Homo sapiens: one gene and its partners. The protein of the gene in region 2 purifies or fractionates together with the protein of the main gene of each other region. This does not show direct contact. Each region holds a gene or a part of one and is shown on either strand. Other genes may lie near its edges.

The links. Proteins that work in one complex are often made in the same cells at the same time.
Region 1: the proteins of LRRC39 (region 2) and CNNM4 purify together in Homo sapiens (affinity purification with mass spectrometry; 3 studies listed by BioGRID and IntAct, with this or other methods). This does not show direct contact.
Region 3: the proteins of LRRC39 (region 2) and LIMA1 purify together in Homo sapiens (affinity purification with mass spectrometry; 3 studies listed by BioGRID and IntAct, with this or other methods). This does not show direct contact.

The regions. Positions count from the first base shown.
Region 1 is NC_000002.12:96,756,077-96,764,117, reverse strand, and holds the start of CNNM4 (metal transporter CNNM4 precursor), read right to left. Parts: upstream 3,217-8,041; 5' UTR 3,119-3,216; coding exon 1,717-3,118; intron 1-1,716. UniProt on the Homo sapiens protein: Probable metal transporter. The interaction with the metal ion chaperone COX11 suggests that it may play a role in sensory neuron functions. May play a role in biomineralization and retinal function.
Region 2 is NC_000001.11:100,174,444-100,182,684, reverse strand, and holds the start of LRRC39 (leucine-rich repeat-containing protein 39), read left to right. Parts: upstream 1-4,428; 5' UTR 4,429-4,550; exon of another isoform or gene 4,551-4,567; intron 4,568-8,241. UniProt on the Homo sapiens protein: Component of the sarcomeric M-band which plays a role in myocyte response to biomechanical stress. May regulate expression of other M-band proteins via an SRF-dependent pathway. Important for normal contractile function in heart.
Region 3 is NC_000012.12:50,217,305-50,225,337, forward strand, and holds part of LIMA1 (LIM domain and actin-binding protein 1), read right to left. Parts: intron 5,355-8,033; exon of another isoform or gene 5,331-5,354; coding exon of another isoform or gene 5,219-5,330; exon of another isoform or gene 5,182-5,218; coding exon 4,717-5,181; intron 1-4,716. UniProt on the Homo sapiens protein: Actin-binding protein involved in actin cytoskeleton regulation and dynamics. Increases the number and size of actin stress fibers and inhibits membrane ruffling. Inhibits actin filament depolymerization.

The sequences.
Region 1 (8,041 bases), on a different chromosome or scaffold from region 2:
TGCTACTGGGTGTGTCACAAACCATAGTCCCAAACACCACAGAGGCAGTGAGGAGGAAGTTGCCCTGGAGGGTCCTAATCAGGTTCCCAACTAAGCAATAGGAGAAGTCTTCAGGTCCCAAGGCTTAGGGTGGGGGTGGGGCACAGATCCTCACTGCTTTTCTGTCCCAGGCTCGGGTACCTGGGAAAACCTGATTCCTGGGTCTGCACTCCCAAAGCCGCCCCCACCCCCACCCCACCGCAGCCTCTGCCTTCACCACTAGGGGTCTGTCTCTCCAGTCTCTGCAGGGAGGCCACCTTCCCTGGGGCTCTCCCAGACTCTGGCTTACTTTACTCAAGTGGTCCTCAGCTCCGATACTAAGATTCAGTCTGTTGAACTTAGGAGGGTACCAACCCACCACCCTGGCCCTGACCCCAGCATCTTTTCAGACCAAACCTGGCAAAGCCAGCTCCTCCCTATCCCACTCCAAAGCTGTCCTCCACTCTCCGTTACAGAAACACCTGCCAGCTCACTCCCTGCTAGGATTCCGAAGTCCCTCCAAGCCCTAGGTCGGCCTGAGCAGCCTCAGCCAGTAGGAGCTCTCCTATGGGAATGAAGGCTGGGAGCATGTTTAGAAAGCAAAGTCCCCAAGTTTAGGATGAGCCCCTCACCCCCATTCCTTTAAAAAAGAGCTTCCCTTTCTGCCTCCTCACTTCCTTCAGCCTGGGAGGGTTCCACTCCATAATTGGCTTGTTTACTGCCACTTTGAGGGTTTCTGAATGGCAGAGATGGGAGGAAAATTTTGCTGGAAGAAAAGGAGTGTGTGCCTTGAGCTTTGAGGCTGATGAGTAAACCCTCCAAATGCCTCTCTAACTACCTGCGAAATGGCCAAGAACCCAGGTGAGAAAAAAACACAAGGCAGTGCAAGGCAGCTGAAGATTTCCAGCAGACCACTGGAGGGAAGCTTACGCTGGCGCCACAATTACCAAAACTTAATCTGCTTGCTTCTGCTGAATAGTCGAAAGCGCTACTTGGCATTGTTCTGAGAAGCGAGCCAATTAGAGACCTCCCAATTCTGCTTCTGTGGGCTAGCACCTCCAGTAACATGACTCCCCTGCTCAAAAACCTGTAGCTCCCAAGCTGGGAGCAAACTTAGCGTCCACCACCGGGCCCCAAACTACTCCAGCCATTGACCACTAAGCATCAGAGCCACTATACCCACCAAACAGGACCACCTGCTGGGCCACAAGCACACTTTTGCTTCTCCACTCCGGTTCTCTGCTTGCGGGGTTCCCTCTGCCTCAAGCAGCAAGCCTCTCTACCTTTTAAGATTCTCCTCAAATGCTCCTTCCCCTGTGGATTCCCCAATTTCCCAGCCCCTTCCTGACTCCACCCCATACTCTAAATCTCCATCGCCCTGGCCTCTTTTCAGGCATCTGTCTTACTCTGTCTTGCTTCAATAGCTCCCTGAGGTCTTGCTCCAGCCCTCCAAGGGAGCGAGTATGTCTTATTCAGCTTTGATTCATCAGGAGCACACAGCACACTACCTGGCAGACGGCAGACACTTGAGAATGGGTCTACCGCTCCAAAATCGTTCACCTCAGAAGCATAGGAAGCGATAGGCAAAGGGACACAGAGTCACACAAACAGAACACTAAAGCCAGCAGACACAAAACACGCCAGGGGAAAAGAGGCGTCAAGAGGAAATTGAACCAGGGGAACTACATCTGGCCTTACCCTTCTTGAACTCCTCCAGCATGGCATCCAACTTGGTGTCATGGAAGACAAAGTGCACCGGGTGGTTATAGAAGCGAGTGATAGTCTTGAGGGGGGTGCAGTCATCGGGGTCCACAAAGGCCAAGTCTTTGACGTAGAGAATATCTACAATATTGGACTGCTCGTCTTCGAACACCGGGATGCGAGTATAGCCGCTTTCCATTATCTCCGACATGGTGTTGAAGTCCAGGATGGCATCGCTGCGGATCATGAAGCAGTCCTGGAGCTGGGTCATGATATCCTCTACAGTTTTGGTCCGTAGTTCCAGGGCACCCTGGATCATATTGAGCTCCTCTTTCACGAGGTCATTATAGGGCTCCGTCACCTTCAACATCTCCATCAGCTTCTCCCGGTTGTAAACAGTGCGAATCTCCTGGCCCAGAAAAAAGTCCAGGAGCTTGCTAATGGGAAAACTGAGGGGGAAGGTGAGTAGCATAAAGAATTTGGTGAGAAGGATGGTGTTGGCACCCACAGCCAGCCCATGTCGGGAGCACAGGGCCTGAGGTAGGATCTCCCCAAAGATGACAATGCCAATGGTGGAGGAGGCCACCGCCATGAGGCCGGACCCGATGAGGTTGTCTAGAAGGATTGTGAGGGAGGTGTTGACCAGCACGTTCCCTAGGAGCAACGAGCAGAGAAGGTAGTTGCCCTTGCGCCGGATGGGCTCAATCTTGCGGGCATAGCGCCTCTCCTTCTCGGTGCCACAGTTCTGCACGATGCGCAGCTCCATGGGGTCCAGGGCCATAAGCCCGAGGTTGAGGCCAGAAAATATGCCCGACAGCACCAGCAGCACCGTAATTAGGAGAATGTGCAGCCAGAGAGGCAGGAACCTCCCAGGCTCCTCCACCATGAAGAGCAGTGAGTCCTTGTCCGTCCACTTCAGCCAGGGCCCGTCGGGCTGGGCCCGGGTGCACAGTGCATACAGCTTCATGCTCTCGCTCCTCCGGAGGAACTTGGTGAGCACCACCAGCACGCCGGACGTGTTCCCGCGGCTCACGTTGACCAGCTGCTGGACGACCAGGTCCTTGGTGAGCTCGAGGCAGCTGGTGGACTTGTGGAGGGTCTCGGCATCGTCCACCTCGGTGAAGGAGATCAGGTTGCTGGAGATGTTGCCCAGGCTGTAGCCGTACAGCCTCAGGTTCACGGTGCTGCCCTCGGACACGAAGATGATGCCATCCGGGTTCGTCCCACACGACTTGTTGCAGCTCGCCAGCCTCATGCCCACGATCGTGCCCTGCTGGGGGCTGCCCTGGCCCCGGGCCCCCAGCGCCCACAGCAGCACCAGCAGCACCGGCGCCGCCAGGAGGAGGCGCCCGCGGGCCGGTCCGCCGACCGGGCGCCCGCCCCCGCCCACCGGCGCCATGTTGCTCTGGCTCTGCCGCCGCCGCCGCTCCCCGCGCCACGCCGCGCGGCCCCGGTCCGCACCGCAGCTCCGGCCGCTCCGCTGCCGCCGAGCCAACTGCCCGGGCCGCGAGCCTGACGTCAGGTCAGCGCCCCGCCCGCCCCGCCCCGCCTGCCCACGCCCCTCATTTGCATTGGAGGCCCCGCCCCCGGGGCTCGCTGCTTGAGCGCCCGCCCTTAAGGGGGTACAGTCGCTTAAGGTGGAGCAGCGCCGCCGCGCGAGAGCCGCCAGCGGGTACCCGCCCAGTGCTCCGCCTCCGCGCCCTTCCCCGCCTTTCTCTGCCAGTGGGGCCAGCTCTCCTTCTCCGGGACCTGGTCTCCTAGCTACGCCGTTCCTGTTCCTCGGCCTCGCACGGCCGCACGTGGGAGGCTCCTCTCCCGTCCCTCACCTGCAGCTAGGGGTGGCCCGCTCTGCAGGCAGGGCGAGAAAAGTGCTTTTCCTGATGTAGAAAAAGAAAAAGGAAACCTGAGGGCTTAGGCTGGCATTGCAGCCTGCCCCTTGGAGACTTTTCTGGCCTCCTCACTGCTGAGATTTTTGCCGACCTTGTCCTAAGGCCAGAAGTAGGTTACCCCAGCCCCAGCCCCAGCCCGACGATGCTTCCATCAACCAGTGGCTGCCTGATGTGGAAGGCAAATCTGGGGAACTAAGGTTATAGAAGGGGCAGGCTCTGGCCTAGACTTCTCTCCTGTCTCTTCCATTTAGGCATAGATATTTATTGAACACCTACTTTGTACCAGGCACTTGTTCTAGGCTCTGACAATAGAGCAGTGAACAAGCCAAAGTCGCTGCCCATTGGGGTTTACAGTCTAGAACAGAAAACAGGAGATAAACAAGTAAACACATATATTCATTAAATCCCCCCAACAACCCTCAGAGTTAGTAGAATTATTTCCATTTAGAGATGCAGAAATTGAGCCGAGACAAAAATCCTGGTGCCTCCATACTGTCATCTCCCAGCCCATTTCTCCATCTGTAAATGGGGGTAAGAATGACAGAGCATTACTTCGCTAAGCTTGCGGGATTGTGGACCTAGACATTGAACATGACAGGACAGCTCTTTAGAATATTCTTTGGCTAGGTAGTAGTTGTTGCTACCTGCCTTCCAGGACCAAACTCCTAACCCCAAATTGTGGTGATTGATCAGCTGGGCAGCTGCTTGTGGACATGAGCAGGCAGGCGCGGCAGTGGGCCTATCCCTGAAATGACTGCTTCCTGAATGGCCCTAGCCCTGTGTCAGTAGGGTGTATAAGGAAGACCACAGCTGCCCGCCCTGTGAGGGGGAAGAAGACAGACAGATAAACATCCTTACAATAATTGCACAGGTGCACAGAGAAGATCAGGTACTGGGTTGACCACCAGGTCTCACAGCAAATCTTTTGCCAGTACTGAAGACACAGAACCCACTTTACTCCCTTCCCGCACTGACACTTGTATTTATTTTCATTTTGGTGTAATGTTTGCTAATAAAAGCAGCAATCAGTACCAAACGGAAGGAGCCTAAACAGAAAGGATCACACAATGTTGTGGGAGGAGGTGTGGTAGCAGAGAGGCCCTGACTCAAGAAAGCCCTGTTAGCTGGGATTGAGGGTTCTGTAAACTAGGCCAGCCTGGAGAAGTATGTTGCTAGTAGGGGCCCCACTCATAGCGGATACTTTGCAGTGAGTGCCCAGCAGGTCAGTTTTTTCGAGGAATAGGAGCCTTGGAATGGGCACTGGCTGAGACAGAACAAAAGCAGAACCTTGACTGCCTGTTCCTTCCCTGTCTCCACCAACCAGGAAGAGCTACCTGAATTGCCTCAAAGCAAACCCAGCTCTCCTCATCTCCTAGTGAGCTGTAACACCAGCGCCCTGCTCCACCCCTACCCCCACCTCCCATACTTAGAAACTTTCCCATTCTATTATCAATCAATTGGCTATTTTTTCCCTTTTTCTTATGATTTTATTTTTTTCTCTATTATGTCTTTTTTCTGCTTAAGTACGAATTGGCTCCTTTTATTTTACCCTTTTCAGGCTGTCTACACTCAGAAGCTCTGTTCATATGCACTGAGTCTAATGACAGAAGCCAATAAAGAAAAGGAAAAATAAGTTTTTTAGATATTTAGGTTAAATGTGGGATTACCAGCTTGGGCAACATAGCAAAAACTCATTTCCACTAAAAATTTAAAAAATAAAAAGTTAGCTTGGCATGATGGTGCACACCTGTAGTCCCAGGACCTTGGGAGGCCAAGGCGGGCAGATCACCTGAGGTCAGGAGTTCAAGACCAGCCTGGCCAAGATGATGAAACCCCGTCTCTACTAAAAATACACAGTTAGCCAGGTGAGGTGATGCACGCCTGTAGTCCCAGCTACCCGGGAGGCTGAGGCAGGAGAATCACTTGAACCCGGGAGGCGGAGGTTGCAGTGAGCCGAGATCACGCCACTCACTCCAGCCTGGGTGACAGAGCGAGACTCCATCTCAAAAAATAAATAAATAAATAAATAAATAAATAAATAAATAAATAAAAATAAAAAGATAAACACAGTATCACTTGTTGGAGAAGGCACACGGGGCCCAGGCCGAAGTCCAGGTTCATTTGCTGCCAGCTTGCAACCCTGGTTAGGGAGTCTGCCTTTTCTGCATCTGCCATGTCGAAATACCTCTCCCACCGTAGGGACAGCATGGAGATAGCAGTCTATTAACATGCTGAGTCAGGAAGCTTGGATGCATGTGTGGCTCTCTGTTAGCCAGGCGGTGAGAATGGCAGAAAGCAAACGTGCAAGCGAGGAGCCTCTCTCCTTTGGGGGCAGATAAAGGCATGATCAAACCTGTTTTCTCTGCCTCAAGGTGGCAAGTCCTTACTTACCTAGTTGCTTCTATTTGCAAGTAGAAATTGCCCAGAGGAGTCCTGATCCTGGACCCCTGAGCATGTAACAGCACCCTAGTCATGAGATCCTTGGAGCTCACTGCTTCTTTCCAGGTGTAAGCCCTATGGCAACATGGCTACACCTCCCATAATTGAGCCCACTCCCTTCTGGTTCTGTGCAGGGAAACAGTCTTAAAGGCTTAGTGCCCCTTCACTTGTACCTGGCATCATGCTGATGCTGGAGATCCGATGATGAACAAGGATCCTGAATTAGTAACCTGGGATCTAATCCTCCCAGGCTAGCTTCTTAGCCCTCTTCACCCTCTGGGTCTCCAAGATGGGGTGCTGCTGGCAGAGGAGCTGCTGGCAGAGAAGCTGCTGGCAGAGAAGCTGCCCTTCCGCTAGTGGGGCTCAGAGCCTGAGGCCTGCCCTGGCCCCACAATGGGTAGAATCCCTCTGGGTGCACCGTGGGCCCCGGGGTTGGAGAACCTGGTTGGGGACCATGAGACATCTTTTCAGGGTGAGCTATGCCCGTCGTCAGTACATGCAGTGGCCTGTTCACCGGCTGCCCATGAGTCTACTATGATAGCCCTGAACATCTGCAGGACTCATCCATGCAGTTAAATTGTCTCAGGAAGGAAGGAGCAGTCAACCCTCTACAGAAGGACAGAGTTAGCGTGGAGTTAGCTAGGGTGGTGCTCAAATCCCAACTCAGGTCATCCCAGCAAGTGGGGGCATGAGGACTTGGATAGGAGGATGTCATGATTTCTGCCTGAGACAAATGTTTAATTGAGCCAGAGGAGGGAGTGAGAGCATCACATCAGTGGGTCCAGGCCAAGGAAGTCGAATGCCAGAGCAGCAAAGGTGAAGGGGTTTGTATTAACTATGTAAGTGGGCTTCAAGCTTCCTCTGGCCATAGGACAAATTGTTTTTCTTGGGAGCAGGACCATGGAAGGCAGGATACCCCACCATGGAGGTTCAGAGCACAGCTTTGAAGGACCCTGGGGGCTGGCTTGGCTGCTGATTGCCTGTGTGACCTGGGACTCTGGGACATTCTCGAGTGTTGAGTGAAATGATGAGCCATAAGTACTTCACAAGTGCCTGGCCCATAGTAAGAGCTCAATAAACATGCCCAGTCACCATGATAATGATGAAAATGATGTGGCCAGGATCATTTTTTTTCTTTTTCTTTTTTTTTAAGACGGGGTCTTGCTCTGTCATCCAGGCTGGAATGCAGTGGCATAATCATGGCTCAATGTAGCCTCAACCTCCCTAGGCCAAGTAATCCTCCCACCTCAGCCTCCTGAGTAGCTGGGACCACAGTCCCAGCGCACGCCACCATGCCCAGCTAATTTTTTTTGTTTTTTTGTAGAGACGGGTTCTCCCTATGTTGCCCAGTCTGGTCTCGAACTCCTGGTCTCAAGTGATCCTCCTAGTTCGGCCTCCCAAAGTGTTGGGATTACAAGTGTGAGCCACTGTACCCAGACCCACAGCCAGGATTTTTAGAAGACACTTGTAAATTTCCTTAGCTCCAGTGTGTCTCTCCATCCACCTGCAGCCACAGTCTTCTCGTTCATTTTCTTCCCTTTCTTCCAGAGGGAGAACACCAGGTGTGGATGATGAGGGAAGAAGGGAGGCTGAGGGGGAGGCCACCTGGGACTAAGCAAGACCCCATTGGACCCTTGGGCCTCCGTCGGGAGGACAGAAAGGAGGCGGGAGTGGAGGAGAAACCTGTTGGAAGAGAGCCTAAGAAAGGTTTTCACAGCACAGAGGGGCTCAAGCTGAAAAGGCTGGGGAAGCCAGGAAGAGAGGGAAGCCTCTCATTCGGTGTCAGACACCTGGCAAGCCCTTAGGCAAGGCCTGCCTGGGAAGCCCCTGCTAGTACCAGGGCCTGGGGGGGGAGTCCTTCGGCCTGCCCTCTCTCATGCCACCATCCTCCCGTCCTCTGTCCCCAAGACTGGCTACCCCAGGAAGCTTTTCCTTCCACCTCCAAAAACACAAAGACCGTTATTTTAAGACATTAACTATAAATCACTAGAGAA
Region 2 (8,241 bases):
AAGAACACAAACAACAAAGTGAAGAGACAACCTGTCTGCAAATCATACATCCGATAAGGGGTTAATAAAAAAAAAAAAAAAAAAAAAGAAACTCAACTCAGCAATGAGAAAACAAAGAACTCAATTTAAAAATTGGCAAAGGATCTGAGTAGACATTTCTCCAAAGAAGACATAAAAATATCCAACAGGTATATGAAAAAGTGCCCCAAATCAAAAATCACAGTGAGATATCACCTCACGCCTGTTAGAATGACTGTTATCAAAAACACAAAAGATAACACGTGTTGGTGAGGATGTGGAGAAAAGGAAACCCTTGCACATTGTTGGTGGGAATGTAAATTAGTACAGCCCTTGTGAAAAACAGTATGGAGATTCCTAAAAAAAATTAAAAATTAAAAAACTACTATAGGATCCATTAATCCAGTACTAAGTACGTATCCAAAATAAAGGAAATCAGTATGTCAAACAGATATCTGCACCCTGATGCTTATTACAATATTATTCACACTAGCCAAGATGAAATGAACCTAAGTGTTCATCAACAGATGAATGGATAAAGAAAATGCATATGTACACAATGGAGTGTTATTCAGCCTTGAAAAAGAAAGAAATCCTGTCACTAGCAACAACATGAATAAATGTGGAAGACATTATATTAAGTGAAATAAGCCAGGAACAGAAACACAAATATACCACTTAATTTCACTTATACACGGGATCTAAGAAAGTTGAACTCATAGAAGTAGAGAATATGGTGGTTACCAGAGACTTGGGAGAGGGGTTGGGGAAACAGACAAACAAACTACCTATTTCAAAATTTTTTTATAGCAGCCTGAGCAGACTAAGACAGACCCTTACCCAATACCATGTATAAAAATTAACTCAAGCCGGGCGCGGTGGCTCACGCCTGTAATCCCAGCACTTTGGGAGGCCGAGGCGGGCGGATCACGAGGTCAGGAGATCGAGACCACGGTGAAACCCCGTCTCTACTAAAAATACAAAAAATTAGCCGGGCGCAGTGGCGGGCGCCTGTAGTCCCAGCTACTCGGGAGGCTGAGGCAGGAGAATGGCCTGAACCCGGAAGGCGGAGCTTGCAGTGAGCGGAGATCGCGCCACAGCACTCCCGCCTGGGCGACAGAACGAGACTCCGTCTCAAAAAAAAAAAAAAAAAATTAACTCAAAACAGATCAAAGACCTAAATGTAAGATCCAAAACTATAAAACTCTAAGAAGTAAACATAGGTGAAAAGCTTCACAGCATTGGATTTGGCAATGATTTATTGGATAAGACATCAAAAGCACAGGCCACAGAAGAAAAGGTGAAGTGGATCAGGCCTATAATCCCAGTACTTTGGGAAACAGAAGTGGGAGGATTGCTTGAGGCCGGGGGTTCAAGATTACAGTGAGCTATGATTGCGCCACTGCACTTCAGTCTGGGTAACAGAGTGAGACCCTGTCTCTTAAAAAAAAGACAGACTGGATATCATAAAATTTTTTAAATTTGTGCATCAAAAGACACTATTAAGAGAGTAAAAAGGCAACCCACAGAATGGGAGAAAATATTTGCAAGTATTATATCTAATAAGAGATTAATATCCAGAATATTGTCATTCACCACTTAATGATGGGGATACATTCTGAGAAATACGTCATTTGGTGATTTTGCCATTGTGAGAACAACATAGAGTGTATTCTGTGTGATAAAATACACATAACATTAAATTTACCATCTTGATCATTTTTTTTTTTTTTTTTTTTTTTTTTTTTTTTGAGACGGAGTCTCGCTCTGTAGCCCAGGCTGGAGTGCAGTGGCGGGATCTCGGCTCACTGCAAGCTCCGCCTCCCGGGTTCACGCCATTCTCCTGCCTCAGCCTCCCAAGTAGCTGGGACTACAGGCGCCCGCCACTACGCCCGGCTAATTTTTTGTATTTTTAGTAGAGACGGGGTTTCACCGTTTTAGCCGGGATGGTCTCGATCTCCTGACCTCGTGATCCGCCCGCCTCGGCCTCCCAAAGTGCTGGGATTACAGGCGTGAGCCACCGCGCCCGGCCGATCATTTTTAAGTGTACAGTTCAGTGGTATTAAACACATTCATAATATTGTGCAACCATCACCACCATCTATCTCCATAATTTTTTATTTGTCCTTTTGTAACTGGCTTACTTAGCATAATGTCCTCAAGAATCATCCATGTCGTAGCCTTTGTCAGAATTCCAGAATTACATTACAGTACTTGCCTAGTAAGGGAGTTGCTGCTGCTGACCCCAGAACCAGCTACATCTGCTGAGGCTAGGCAACTTTTGCTGCCAAAACAAACCCCAGAACATACTGCCTTTGCTGCTACCCATGCCAGCAAAAATGGACACCAGCGACACAAGTCACCCAACAGAGCCCTTTGTTGGTGTATATAATTAGTGGAACCTTAGTAGTGTATAAAATTAGTCACATACCCCATTCCAGTAGCAGGGGAGGCTGGGATTTCTTTTCCCCCTCAAATTCTACCTTGGAAAGGTAGGATTCATGATGTGGGGGATTATAAAAATGTGGATGGTGTTCAAAATATTTTGGACAGTCGTAAATGACAGATAGATATTCATTATATAGTGCCTGTCTCTTTGCATTCACTTTCTACATCCCTCCAAAGTCACCAAAATTCTGGCTAATTTGTGTCATAAATAGCTCAGGCATCTATTCACTTTCCCTATCCTCCCGGGCATTTCTTTAGTGTAAGTCACTCCATGGGGATGGGAAATAAAAGGTAGATAAGGGAAGGAGAAGAGAGATGCCTTGAAATTTGTGGGTTCTCTATAAATACTGTCAAATTAAAATTTAATTGTACGTAGTGCCAAAGGCAGAAAGAAATCTTAATTTTCTCCAAGGTAACAATATACTGTTCTTTTTAACTGAAACAAAACTCCCTGGATCTCTCTCTCTCTCTCTCTCTTTTTTTTTTTTTTTCTTCAGACAAGGAAGGCTCTGTTGCCCAGGCTGGAGTGCAGTGGCACCATCACAGCTTGACCTCCCTGGCTCAAGGTATCCTCCCACCTCAGTCTCCCAAGTAGCTGAGACTACATATACACACCACTACACCTGGCTAGTTTTATTTTATTTTATTTATTTTTATTTTTATGGAGACAGGGCCACCATGCCTGGCTACTTTAATTTTTTTTTTTTTTTTTTTTTTTTGGTAGATACAGGGTCTCACTCTGTTGCTCAGGCTGGTCTCCAGCTCCTGGGCTCAAGTGATCCTACCATCTTGGCCTCTCAAAGTGCTGGGATTACAGGTGTGAGATCTTGATTTTTACTTATGAACACATGCAAGCACTCTGTATGTGTTGGGTGGTGTACACTCTCGGGACAGGGAAGTTAGAGTTTCAATTGTGGCCATGGCTTCTTTACTCTTTCTGTGATCTTGAGCAGTCCCACAACTCTTAGAACTTAATTCATTATAGAAGTGTTGGAGAATTTCTGTGAGATAATCAGGCATAAATTTTTAAAGCATTAATATTGCTGAGATGTCCAAATGACTACATAAATTATGATCCACCTACACGCTAAACTGCTATGTAGCCATTAAAAAGAATGACGCTGCTCTAAATATACTAATATGAAACAGTTTCCAAGATATCCTGAGTGAAGAAAAGACAGTATAGAACAATGTATATAGTATGCTACCATTTTTGTATGTGTGCATGCCTTCACATATGTGTGCTTTTAAGGGATATAGGCATATTTAAGCTCGTAAATTCATAGACCATCTTTGTAAAGGTACACAAAGAACTGGCAATAGTGGTTGCCTTCAGAGAAGAGAACTTGAAGAGAACCTCCCTACTGGAGGCAGGGATGGTGGAAGGGGTGGGGGATGGAGAGAGTGGAGATTGAGCTTTTGAATTCTGTTCCATGTGCATATATTATAAATTCAAAAAAAGATATAGTTTATTTTTTAAGAACCTGGAATTAAGTCCTATCTATGAAAGCTGAAGAGATCAAAGTGAGAGGTAATTTAATTTGAAGCCCAGGTACAGCAGAAGTTTGGGGCTTCTGTGTTACTCATGCTTATCCACACCTTTATTTTTTCTTTTTCTAAAGCATCTGGGTCTTTAGTTCAAATATTTGCAGATCCATGGTTTACTGGGTAGAATTTTTGTTGTGGCATACATCAACATATTCCAAGTTTCTCTGCTTGGATGGAATAGATGCATGAAATTCTGTGAAATGATTAAGCTGTGAAAAGTAGAAGGACTTTGAATAGGCATTATTTTTCAAGATCTTAGAAATAGTTATGCCTGATAGTTTTATAATGTCTGTAGCGTATTTTGCAGTCCACAGAACGCACTCACATACATTATCAGCTGATCCGTCGCAAAGAAGCCTCATGTGATTCTTTCTATTCTCAGCTTTGTCCATGAACTAAAATTAGAACTAGGCTGACATTACATTTCACTTGGTTACAGCTGACTGGGGATTTTAATCATTTGGAGCCACACTGAAAAAAAAATTTCCCCCTGCAATCTACTCTTAACTGATAGTCGCTAACTTTGGTTATGTGTGGTAAGTATTTGACAATGGTAAGTATTTTTCAAAAACATTTTTCCTTTCTTCTTCACATGTAAATAGATTGCTGCTGATACCTATACTGTGTCTGTATTGGTTGGAATGTCCAAACAAACTGGAATAGAATTTAAAAGTTTTTTTGCGGGGTGTTCATGGTCACTCATATAATTGTGCTCCTCTGGAAGATAGATTTCCCCAGAAGTAAGAAACAATTCTTCTGCAATTCTTTTCTATGCTTACCTCACTTGTCACATTATGTGCTTTTTTTCTATTATGGTACTAATCAGAGTAGAGAGCAGTCCTGTGCTGGAGGAAGAAATATATCATTATTGACTTGTGTTTCCCTAGGGGAAGTTGGTTGTTATAGGAAAACTGATGGATGAGCAACATTTAATGGCAAATGAGGAAATGAATTAGCAAATGGATGAATTGTTTTACATGTCTTCTAAAATACATGTATACATGTAGATACTTGGGAATTCAAAAATATTTTTATTCGAGTATTTAGCAAAAACTTCAAACTTTCTTAAATTAGAGACAATAAATTGTAAATTGGTTGCAATATGCTCAGGAAGTTGGATTACCAGTGTATGTATCCCAAGGTTTCTTCACAGCAAAGAGATCTCGCATTCTGTTCCTGAGTAAATTCGGCATGCCTTGCTTAGAGATTCTCTCAACAATTTCCTGCCTATGCCAATTATTTATCAATCTTGAAATTTTAAACTTTTTTCTGTAATATAGTTCTCCTCTTTCTTTGACTGTCTCACACACATATATACTGCATAATATTAGTTTAAAAAATCAATAATTTAGAAGAGGTTAATAATGAAAAGCAATATTATCTATCCGATTCCTCTCTATCACCAGTCCTGCTCCCTAGAAGTAATCATTTTAACCATTTTGGAATTTAGTTTTCAGTGGTTATCTCCATATTTCTCTCTTTTTTTTCTTTTTCAAAGACAATTGCATGCTATTTTTAATCAACTTTAAACATCTGTGGAGCTTCATTATGAGAGGTGGGGATTAAGTTCCCTTACACTGCCATAGAGTTATATCCCTATTTTTAGCTTCTCTCTTGATTACCTTAATAACTTTAAGCAAATACTTTAATCTTTATTTCTTGTTCCATAAGGTACAGACAGTATCTGTTGATTCCCCACTTCGAAGATGTGGATATCGGTGTTCTTATCATTTACTTCTTTTCCTTATTTCCTTCTTCCATATTCTGTTAAAAGTACTGTCACTTTTATGTTTTCAAGATATATGGCATTTATATTCTGTTCTGTAACCCTCAATAAGTCTTCCTTACTTTTTTATAGATTGATTTATTTCAAAAGTTTAAGACCAATACATAGACTTTACTATGTAATTTCTGTTTTCTGCAGAGCCAACATTTCCTTCTCAGTATCAATGTCATATTCATTGTACTAAAGAAGAATGTTAAAATAGATTCTCCTTTCCTGCACTTCAATAAATGCTAAAAAATCATGCCACATTTTGTTGGCTCTATATATGGACTGTGGCTTTCTTGTACAGTGTCTTCCTCAACACAATTTCTGACTGCCTTTCTTTTTGCTTATTGGGAGAAGAAATTTCATCTTTTCACCATATCTCCAATGTCACACAGTTTTTTCCCCCTTAATTCTAGCTATTTTTATAATTCAATGGATGAATACTGCCATTCCTTTTTTTTGTTTGTTTTTGAGACAGAGTTTCATTCTTGTTGTCTGGTCTGTAGTGCAATGGTGCAATCTCAGCTCACTGCAACCTCTGCCTCCCGGGTTCAAGTGATTCTCCTGCCTCAGCCTCCCAAGTAGCTGGGATTACAGGCATGTGCCACCACGCCTGGCTAATTTTATGTTTTTTTAGTAGAGACGGGGTTTCACCATGTTGGTCAGGCTGGTCTTGAACTCCTGACCTCAAGCGATCCACCAGCCTCCCAAACTGCTGGGATTACAGGCGTGAGCCACCATGTCCAGCTATTGCTTTTAAAACATTGTTTTACTTTATTTTTAATTTTTTTACTATCATGTAAAACATTGCTGGGAACAGTCTTGTTCATGTTTCCTGGTGGAGACACACCCTTCCTCTAGGTACATACCTTTGAATGGAATTGCTGGATCATAAGCTGTGCTTATCTTCAATATTAGTACATAAGTATTTCAAAATAGTTAATACTAATTTACAATTTCACCAATATACCAGGAGTCCATGAGGATTTCTGTAACTCAAATTCTCACCAACACTTGGTATAATCAGCCTTTTGAATTTTAGCCATTCTGACAGATGTTCATTGGTATCTTATTATGTTTTTATTAAGGTGGAGCACAACTTCATTTGTTTTTGGTCATTTGGATTTTTTTTTCTCCACAGGGAAAGTTCTACCATTTGGATTTTATTTTTTGAAAATTTCCTGTTCAATTGTATTTTCTGTTGCCTTTTTCAGCTGATTTTAAGGAGTTCGTTATATATTCTAGATGTAATCCATTGGTGGTTATATATATTGCCAATATCTTCCCCCACTAATGTACATGGTATTCCTTTTATTTTCTAAGTGATGTCTTTCAATAGGTTCTTAATTGTAATGTAGTCCACTTTATCAATCTGTGTTAGGCTGTTCTTGCATTGCTATAAAGAAATAACTGGCCAGGCACAGCAGCTCATGTTTGTGATCCTAGCACTTCTGGAGGCCAATGCAGGAGGATCACTTGAGCCCAGGAGTTCAAGACCAGCCTGGAGAATGTGGAGACATCCTGTCACTACCAAAAAAAAAAAAAAAAAACTGGCACACTGGTTCTTGCTGTAGTCCCAGCTATTCTGAAGGCTGAGGCAGAGGGGGCCCAGGAGATCAAGGCTACTATAAGCCATGATTGTGCCACTACACTCCAGCCTTGGTGGCAGAGTAAGCCTGTCTCAAAAAAACAAAAAACAAACAAACAAAAAACCACAAAACAAAGAAATACCTGAAACTGGGTAAATTACAAAGAAAAGAGGTTTAACTGGCTCACGGTTCTGCAGGCTTTACAGGAAGCATGGTGCTGGCATCTGCTTCTCAGGGAGCTTTCAATCATGGTGGAAGGCAAAGGGGGAAGCCTGCGTCCCGCAAGGCCAGAACAGGAGCAAAAGAGGGAGCAGGGGGAGGTGCCACAAACTTAAAGAACCAGATCTCCCAAGAACTCACTGTTTCAAGGACAGCACCACGCCATGAGGGATCCTCCTCCATGATCCAATCACCTCCTACCTAGCCAACACCTCCAACGTTGGGGATTACAGTTCAACATGAGATTTGGTGGGAACATATATTCAAACTATATTGTGATATAGTATATCTTTTCCTTTATGGATATGCTTTGTATTCTGTTTTAAAAAGTGTTCTCTACTTTAAGGACATCAAGATAAGTCCTATATTGTCACCTAAATGCTTTATTTTTTCTACTTTCACTTTTAGATCTACAATTCACATGGAATTAATTTTGGTAATACATAGATATTCAACTGTCCCAATATAATTTCTCTTAAAAAATTATTCCCATGGCCAGGTGTGGTGGCTCACACCTGTAGTCCCAGCACTTTGGGAGGCCAAGGCAGGCAGATCACTTGAGCCCAGGAGTTCAAGATCAGCCTGGGCAACATGGTAAAACCCCATCTCTACAGAAAAATACATAAATTAGCCAGGTGTGGTGGTGTG
Region 3 (8,033 bases), on a different chromosome or scaffold from region 2:
TTTCTCTCCAGACTGAGATCAAGTGACTTCACTGCAGTGGCTCAAGAGTGGCTGACTCCCTCCTTCCAAATCAGCCCATCATAGAACACCTATTGCTAAATAGCAAAAGCCAGAGGCTTAGACTGGATCCCTCATAATTGGAGACTTCAAAGTGTTCAGAACTTCAAGCCTGGCCTTTGAAGTAAAATCTTTTTTTTTTTTTTAAGTACAATTGCAATTTTTTTATTTTTCTCCAGAGGCTAGTTTTTCTTCAGTCCTTAAGAACTCTGCTCCTTATATGGGCTTCGGTGGCAGTCATGGGGCAGCACCGCAGGTCTACAGTGGGGTGGAGGTGTTCGGTCCTTGCGGGCTTCATGACCTTGATTTCTGGCGGTCGTGGGGCAGCACCCGCAGGTCTACAGTGGGGGGAAGGTGTTCGATCCTTGTGGGCTTCATGACCTTGATTCCTGACTACCGTGCTGTGAATGGCACAACTCACACAGTAATGTAGCTTCACATCCAGCCTGGGAAGTACACAGGCATCTAGGACGCTCACTTCAGAAATATCGCTGACTGCCGCAGCCTCTACATTTCAAGCATTTCAAGTGATGAATTTCTTTTCTTTTTTTTTTTTTTTTTTTGAGACGGAGTCTCACTCTTGCCCAGGCTGGAGTGCAGTGGCGTGATCTCGGCTCACTGCAAGCTCTGCCTCCCGGGTTCACGCCATTCTCCTGCCTCAGCCTCCCGAGTAGCTGGGACTACAGGCGCCCGCCACCACGCCCAACTAATTTTTTTGTGTTTTTAGTAGAGACAGGGTTTCACCGTGTTAGCCAGGATGGTCTCAATCTCCTGACTTCGTGATCCGCCCGCCTCAGCCTCCCAAAGTGCTGGGATTACAGGCGTGAGCCACCGCGCCCGGCCTATGATGAATTTCTTAATAAGCCTTGTCATTGGGCACACAATGGGCACAGTTTATGCAGCAAATTGGCTGCAGTGAATAGCGTACACCTGGTTGCGGCCCTCTTTGGTGTGACCATTGTTTCTTCTTTTCTTTGTCATCTTGGAGGTACAGGCCCAAGAAAGATGAAGTAAAAATCTTAATTTGAGGGTGACTAAATGAGTGCTTCAAGACCACTTACCCCAAATCCACATTCTGCAAGACAGTTCAAGAAAAAAGGCAAAGTAGCCGTCTACCTCAAGGCTATGGGCTCCACAGTACTTAGCACAGCTGTACCCAAATGTAAACACTTCCCATGGCGTGCTTCTTCCCTGTCTCCCAGGTTAGTCACAATGATGCCAAGGTGCTCTGTCATTGACATTCTCATCCTTTAAGAATTTCAGGCTGGGTGTGGTGGCTCATGCCTGTAATTTCACCAGCTTGGGAGGCCAAGGCAGGAGGATCACTTGAGCCCAGGAGTTTAAGAACAGTCTGGGCAACATAGCGAAACGCTGTCTCCATAAAAAATTTTAAAAATTAGCTGAGAGTGGTGGTACACACCTGTGGCCCCAGCTATTTGGGAGGCTGAGGCAGAGGGGTCAAGGCTGCAGTGAGCCATAACTGTACCACTGTACTCCTCCAGCCTGGGCAACAGAGTTAAGACCCTATCTCCATAAAAAAAAAAAAAACAAAAACAAAAAAAAAACGCATTTCAAACAATAACAGCAGTTTAATTCTTCCTTTGGAATCTAGGTAAAACTGGTCTTCTCTATAAAGTCTACTATGTTCTGGTCTCATTTCAAAAAGTATAAACACACTGAAGTTAAAACGTGAAATATTAAGAATAAAAGATTCAAAAAGTAGCAGTTGGGGGATGAGTATTCCAAGGTTTGAGTATAAGATTGGCTGTGAGACTATACAGGTAGGTTGAGCTCAGACTATAGAATACCTGACAGAACTGTTAAAAATAATCTAGACTGAGACTGGGCGTGGTGGCTCATGCCTGTAATCCCAGCTCTTTGGGAGGCTTGAGGCAGGCAGATCACCTGAGGTCAGGAGTTCAAGACCAGCCTGACCAATATGATGAAACTCCGTCTCTACTAAACATACAAAAATTAGCTGGGCGTGGTGGCGGGCGCCTATAATCCCAGCTATTTGGGAGGCTGAGGCAGGAGAATTACTTGAACCTGGGAGATGGAGGTTGCAGTGAGCCGAGATCGCACCAATACACTCCAGCCTGAGTAACAGTGAGAGATTCTGTCTCAAAAATAAATAAATAAATAAATAAATATAATCTAGACTGTTTTCAGTATGGACAATGATGCTTATTTACAAACAGCAATAAAACCAAGGGTGGCTGTGTTTTCCACTCCCTAAGCAGTCCATTAAGTGACAAATCAGGAAATTAAAAATGGCACACACAAAAAGCAATGAAACCTAGAAGCCCAGGTGAATCTTATGTCTCTTCCATCTTCTTGTTTTTAAGGGACAGGGATCTTACTGTGTTGCCCAGGCTGGAGTGCAGTGGCGATCATGGCTCACTGCAACCTCAAACTCTCATGCTCAAGCAATCTTCTGCCTCAGCCTCCTAAGTAGCTGGGACTATCAATGCATACTACCACACCTGGCTAATTTTTAAATTTTTAGTAGAGACGAGGTCTGGCTATGTTGCCCAGGCTGGTCTCAAACTCCTGGGCACAAGCAATCCTCCTGCCTTGGGCCTCCCTAAATTCTCATTACAGATGTAAGCCACCGTGCCCAGCCTCTTCCATCTTCCTATACCTTTAGCAATCAATCTGGTGGCCCAGTGCTATCAGCCATCTAGTAGGATCTTTATTTTTATTTTTATATATTTTTTGAGACAGAGTCTCACTCTGTTGCCCAGGCTGGAGTGCAGTGGCATGATCTCGGCTCACTGCATCCTCCACCTCCCAGGTTCAAGTGATTCTCCTGCCTCAGCCTCCCAAGTAGCTGTGACTACCAGCAACGCCACCATGCCTGGCTAATTTTTGTATTTTTAGTGGAGACGGGGTTTCACCATGTTGGCCAGGCTGGTCTCGAACTCCTGGCCACAAGTGATCCCCCAACCTCTGCCTCCCAAAATGCTGGGATTACAGGCTTGAGCCACCACGCCCGGACTAGTAAGATCTTATATGGAAAGTTTTTCTCCTCTCCAAGCAGCCTTAGGGAGATAGGCTTGTTCTGACCCATATCTCACTAGATATTTATGAGAAAAAGTGTCTCACCATATCCTTACACATAATCAGCATTTTTGTCTGCTACAGTCCCAGTCATTTCCTACCTTTGGCCAGTTTCAACATGCAGCAGCCTTTTGCACTGAATCTACATTGTGTGTACTGGCATGACATCAGCTGTCCTGTTCCTAGCAGGGTCTGGGAGGAGGAGACTTACAATGGTGCTTTGAGTCACAACAAAACCCCTTCCTCTCTATTTAGGATTTCTGACATTTTTTCCTTCCACTTAAAATTCTTCTTCCCATTTAAATAAAACAAATTTTTAAATTAAAACCATAAAGGGGAAAGAAGGAGTTGGCAGGACTAAAGGTCTAAAAACTTGAGAGGGAAGAGAGTTAAGAAACGTTATAAAACTGCTTTGTGGTTACATCTCTTGCCAACTGGTTTCACTGTTAAAGTAGAGCTAAAGCTCATGCACAGAGAAGTGTTGTAGCTTTACACATCGTCAAAAACTCGCACAACTTCAAACATGACCCGCAAACATTCAAGAACTTTTCTAATTCTAAGTAGAAAAGTGACTGGCACTGCAAGTCATGGGAAGGGATTGACAATATCACATCTAATATAACTGAAGACTACAGGATGAGTTATTTTTTATCTCAGAAAGAATGCTTAATATTATTATATTACTTTCCAAACATAGGGACTTGGGCCAAATATTTAGCTTAAAAAAAATCCAGCTTTCCCATCTAGGTGGAATCTAGAGTAACAGATGGTTTTGCTCCCCATCAGGTCTGTTTATTTCATTATAACGACTGTTGTAACGAACCATCCCCATGTACAAAGCCAGATATATAGGAAAGTATGAGAAAACTGGAAAAATTTACCAGCTCTGTGGCCTCTGGATTGTGTTATAAATCACCAGCATATGTAACTCATTTTCTAGTTAAGTAATTCCCTCTGGGGACGAGGTCTGCAATCCACATGAAGGATCAAATTTCATTAGCAGTTGTAGGAAAACGCAACCCTGTGCATTTGCAAGTCAAAACTCCCGAAAGCTATAGCTAGTCTGGCTATCTTCATTGATTTTGCCTGAGAGAGGATTTTAGCTGATAGAAAACATTTGTTGGAAGGCACAGATGAGGAAGTTGAGAAGAAGAGAAGGGATTCAGCTAGCAGAGACAAGTAAGCCTCAGTCTTAATGTTAAACTCCGGCCTTAACACTCAGTCTGCAGCTGTGTCCAAGCAGAGAGCTATTCAGCAGTAATTCCACCCCCAAAGCTACAAATGATAAAGAACACAGGAAGACAATTTAAAAGGGCAAGTGTACAAAAACACATAATCCAATCGGTATTAAACTCTCTTCATTTCTAGATACCAATTTGAATCCCAGTGTGAACCTGATTTAACATGAAATTGTGTCAGAGACTCACAAATCTTAGCATCTATGTAAATAATGCATTTGAGACTATTAACTTATCTAACTGGAATCAAAAGACATACTGACCACATATTCGCCTCTACTCAAAATAGCTAGATTGGAAAAACAGCTTTGTTTAGTGCTTGAATTGGCTTTCTCAAGTTTCAAACCCGCCCAATTCTTACCTTAGTTTGAGTTGGTTCACCTTTCTCAAACATCATCTTAAGCCTGTTCAGCGGAACATTATATTTCTCTATTTTGCCCGAAGCATCTGTGTTTTCACTGATTTCTGATTTTTCTACTTCATGCCTGGATTCTCCTAGACAATTTTCCATTTTTTTACTTTCTGTTGAGTGGTCTTTAAGATCCTCACCGTCCTTGATGTGGGGATATCGACCCTGAACGAGGGCTTCAGGAGGTGACCTGAGTCTAGATCTGGGGTGGATTTGTTCTTCTTGGTCAGCTTTGGCTCCAGAAGCAGCGTGGCTTGTCACTTCAGCAGGAGGATGGTCTGCTCTGTGCCTAATCTCAGTGCTGCTGTTCCGTAGAGAGTCTGTGTGAGACTCTGCTCCCAGCCCTGGGTTCTCCCACTTCTTCTTTAACACAGTCAGGGTCCCCTTTCTAAAGTGCTGGGAGAGATTTTCGGTGTTCTAGAAGAACAAGAAGTAGATGCCAGTTATAACTTGCCTGCTGAAACATTCAAACATGTTGTTCTTTGTAAAATGAAAGTTAAAACTCCAAGCTGCTCCTGGTCCACTGCTGTTTCAGACAGCTGTGAACAGTTACAGCCTTGCCACATGGAGAAAGCATCCACCCGGCAGAGGGAGAGGGAGAGGGGAAGAGAGAAAAACTCAGGAGCTGAAGCAGGAAGTGATAAAACAGGATGGCCTTATAAGGACAAAATGAGAAGAAAGGCAAACCCAGCTCTAATGATAGTTACATGCGAAACAAGAGATTTTTACCCAAAGATTAATGGGGAAAAAAACAAGAAAGAAAAAGCAAAATACAAGTGCTTGAAACACTGTAACTACACATCAGCAAAGTTCATCATTACCTGCCATAAAATAACATGGTAAATTCTGCTGGGTTTTTTTTTCTTCTTTTAAATAAGACAAAGATGCAGGATAGTTGCAGGATAGCTGAAACTATACCATTAATTACGGATAGTGGCAGCAAGGATTGAAACAATTTGTAGAACCCTGGAGAAGTCCCCAGACTTTCCAAGTATTTGCATAAATATTTAGTTATATCTGACATAATTTACATGCATATGAGCAGTCAAATTTTATTTTTCATAAGAATTTAATCTTTTTTTTTTCCCTGCTCTTCTCTACAAGTTTATCTGTGTATAAATTCTCACTTATCAGGGCCAGGCACGGTGGCTCACGCCTGTAATCCCAGCACTTTGGGAGGCCGAGGCCGGCGGATCACAAGGTCAGGAGTTTGAGACCAGCCAGACCAACATGGAGAAACCCTGTCTCTAAAAAAAATACAAAAATTAACTGGGTGCAGTGGTGCACACCCATAGTCCCAGCTACTCTGGAGGCTGAGGCAGGAGAATCGCTTGAACCTGGGAAGTGGAGGTTGCAGTGAGCCAAGACTGCGCCACTACACTCCAGCCTGGGTGACAAAGTGAGACGCCATCCCCCAACCAAAAAAAAAAAAAAAATTCTCAGTTATCAAGAAATTCACTGTTTTACAGATCCTCTGGTTGTAAAATATGCAGGCTTCAAATGCAAATACCACTACTTATCACTCAGATGATCAAAGGACACACATTTACATATCTAAGAGAGTTCACTTTCACTAGGGCCAAAAATGGAATTAATTTATACATGTAAGACAGACTGAAAACAACCTGGAAATTGTCACTGTTGTTCCATAATAGAGGAAACACGCTTGTTGAAAATTAAATGTCCCGGCTGGGCGCAGTGGCTCATGCCTGTAATCCCAGCACTTTGGGAGGCCGAGGCGGGTGGATCACCTGAGGTCAGGAGTTCGTGGCCAGCCCGGCCAACACCGTGAAACCACGTCTCTACTAAAAATACAAAAAATAGCTGGGCGTGGTGGCACGCGCCTGTAGTCCCAGCTACTCAGGAGGCTGAGGCAGAAAAATGGCTTGAACCTGGGAGGCGGAGGTTGCAGTGAGCCCAAATCGCGCCACTGCACTCCAGTCCGGGTGACAGAGTGAGACTCTGTCTCAAAAAAAAAAAGAAAAATTAAATTAAATTAAATGTCCCGTACTTTGAAAGGACTGTACTCCTAAATAAATTGAACAGCACCACCTTCCCAACAAACTGCAAACTCCAATACCTTCTCTCCTGTAGTCTGTGACTCACCAGTCTTTCAACTAAGAAAGAAAGGACAAACAACCTAGGAATTAAACAGGATTAGCAGCTATTTTGGGAATTAAGTCTCTCACCCTATTACTCTTCTGAATATACTCTTGAAAGCCACTTCATCAAGTAGAAATAAGGCTTGAAAAGAAATTATAGAACTGCTTGATTCTAGTGTTTAAATTTTAGCTTACAAAATGATCCATTGGGGGAAGAATGTATGCATCAGAGATATAAGAAGCTTAAAAAGTTTTCTTGCTGGAAAAGAAGGAATTACAGAACAGCTCCAGAAGCTGGTTCTACCCTAACTGCCAGCAGCACTCTTGGCTCTGTAAGGTCTCGTGCCACACAATGGATGAGTCATCTAGGTCTCTGACTTCACCTGCCCTTACTGTAACCACACAGGAGCCCTGACAATCAAAGTGGCACTTTGCCTTGGTAACTGGACACTGTTTTTCTCAGATACCTATCATGTGATCAAAGTATACTTATTGACATGAAAAGATGCTCATAGGATACTTTTGAATGAAGAAAGCAAATTATAAGACAGCATGATCCTATTTTAATTTTTTTTTAGAGACGGGGTCTCGCTCTGTCACCCAGGCTGAAATGCAGTGGTGTAATCATAGCTCACTGCAGCTGTTTGACTTCCTGGGCTCAAGTGATCCTCCCACCTCAGCCTCCTGAGTAGCTAGGACTACAGGTGTATGTCAGCATGCCTGGCATTTTTTTTTTTTTTTTTTTTTTTGAGACGGAGGTTCACTCTTGTTGCACAGGCTGGAGTGCAATGGCGTGATCTCGGCTCACTGCAACCTCGGCCTCCTGGATTCAAGCAATTCTCATGCCTCAGCCTCCTGAGTAGCTGGGATTACAGGCATGTGCCACCATACCTGGCTAATTTTGTATTTTTAGTAGAGACGGGGTTTCTCCATGTTGGTCAGGCTGGTCTCGAACTCCCAGCCTCAGGTGATCTGCCTGCCTCGGCCTCCCAAAGTGCTGGGATTATAGGCATGAGCCACTGCGCCTGGCCCCAACTGTCTCTTTAAAATGTTCATAACATTATCTTATTTTTAATTTATTATTTTTCTCAATTAAAAAAGTAATAACTTATTGGGGGAAAAACTCTCAATCAATATAGAAATATGTACCCGACATGAATAGATGCT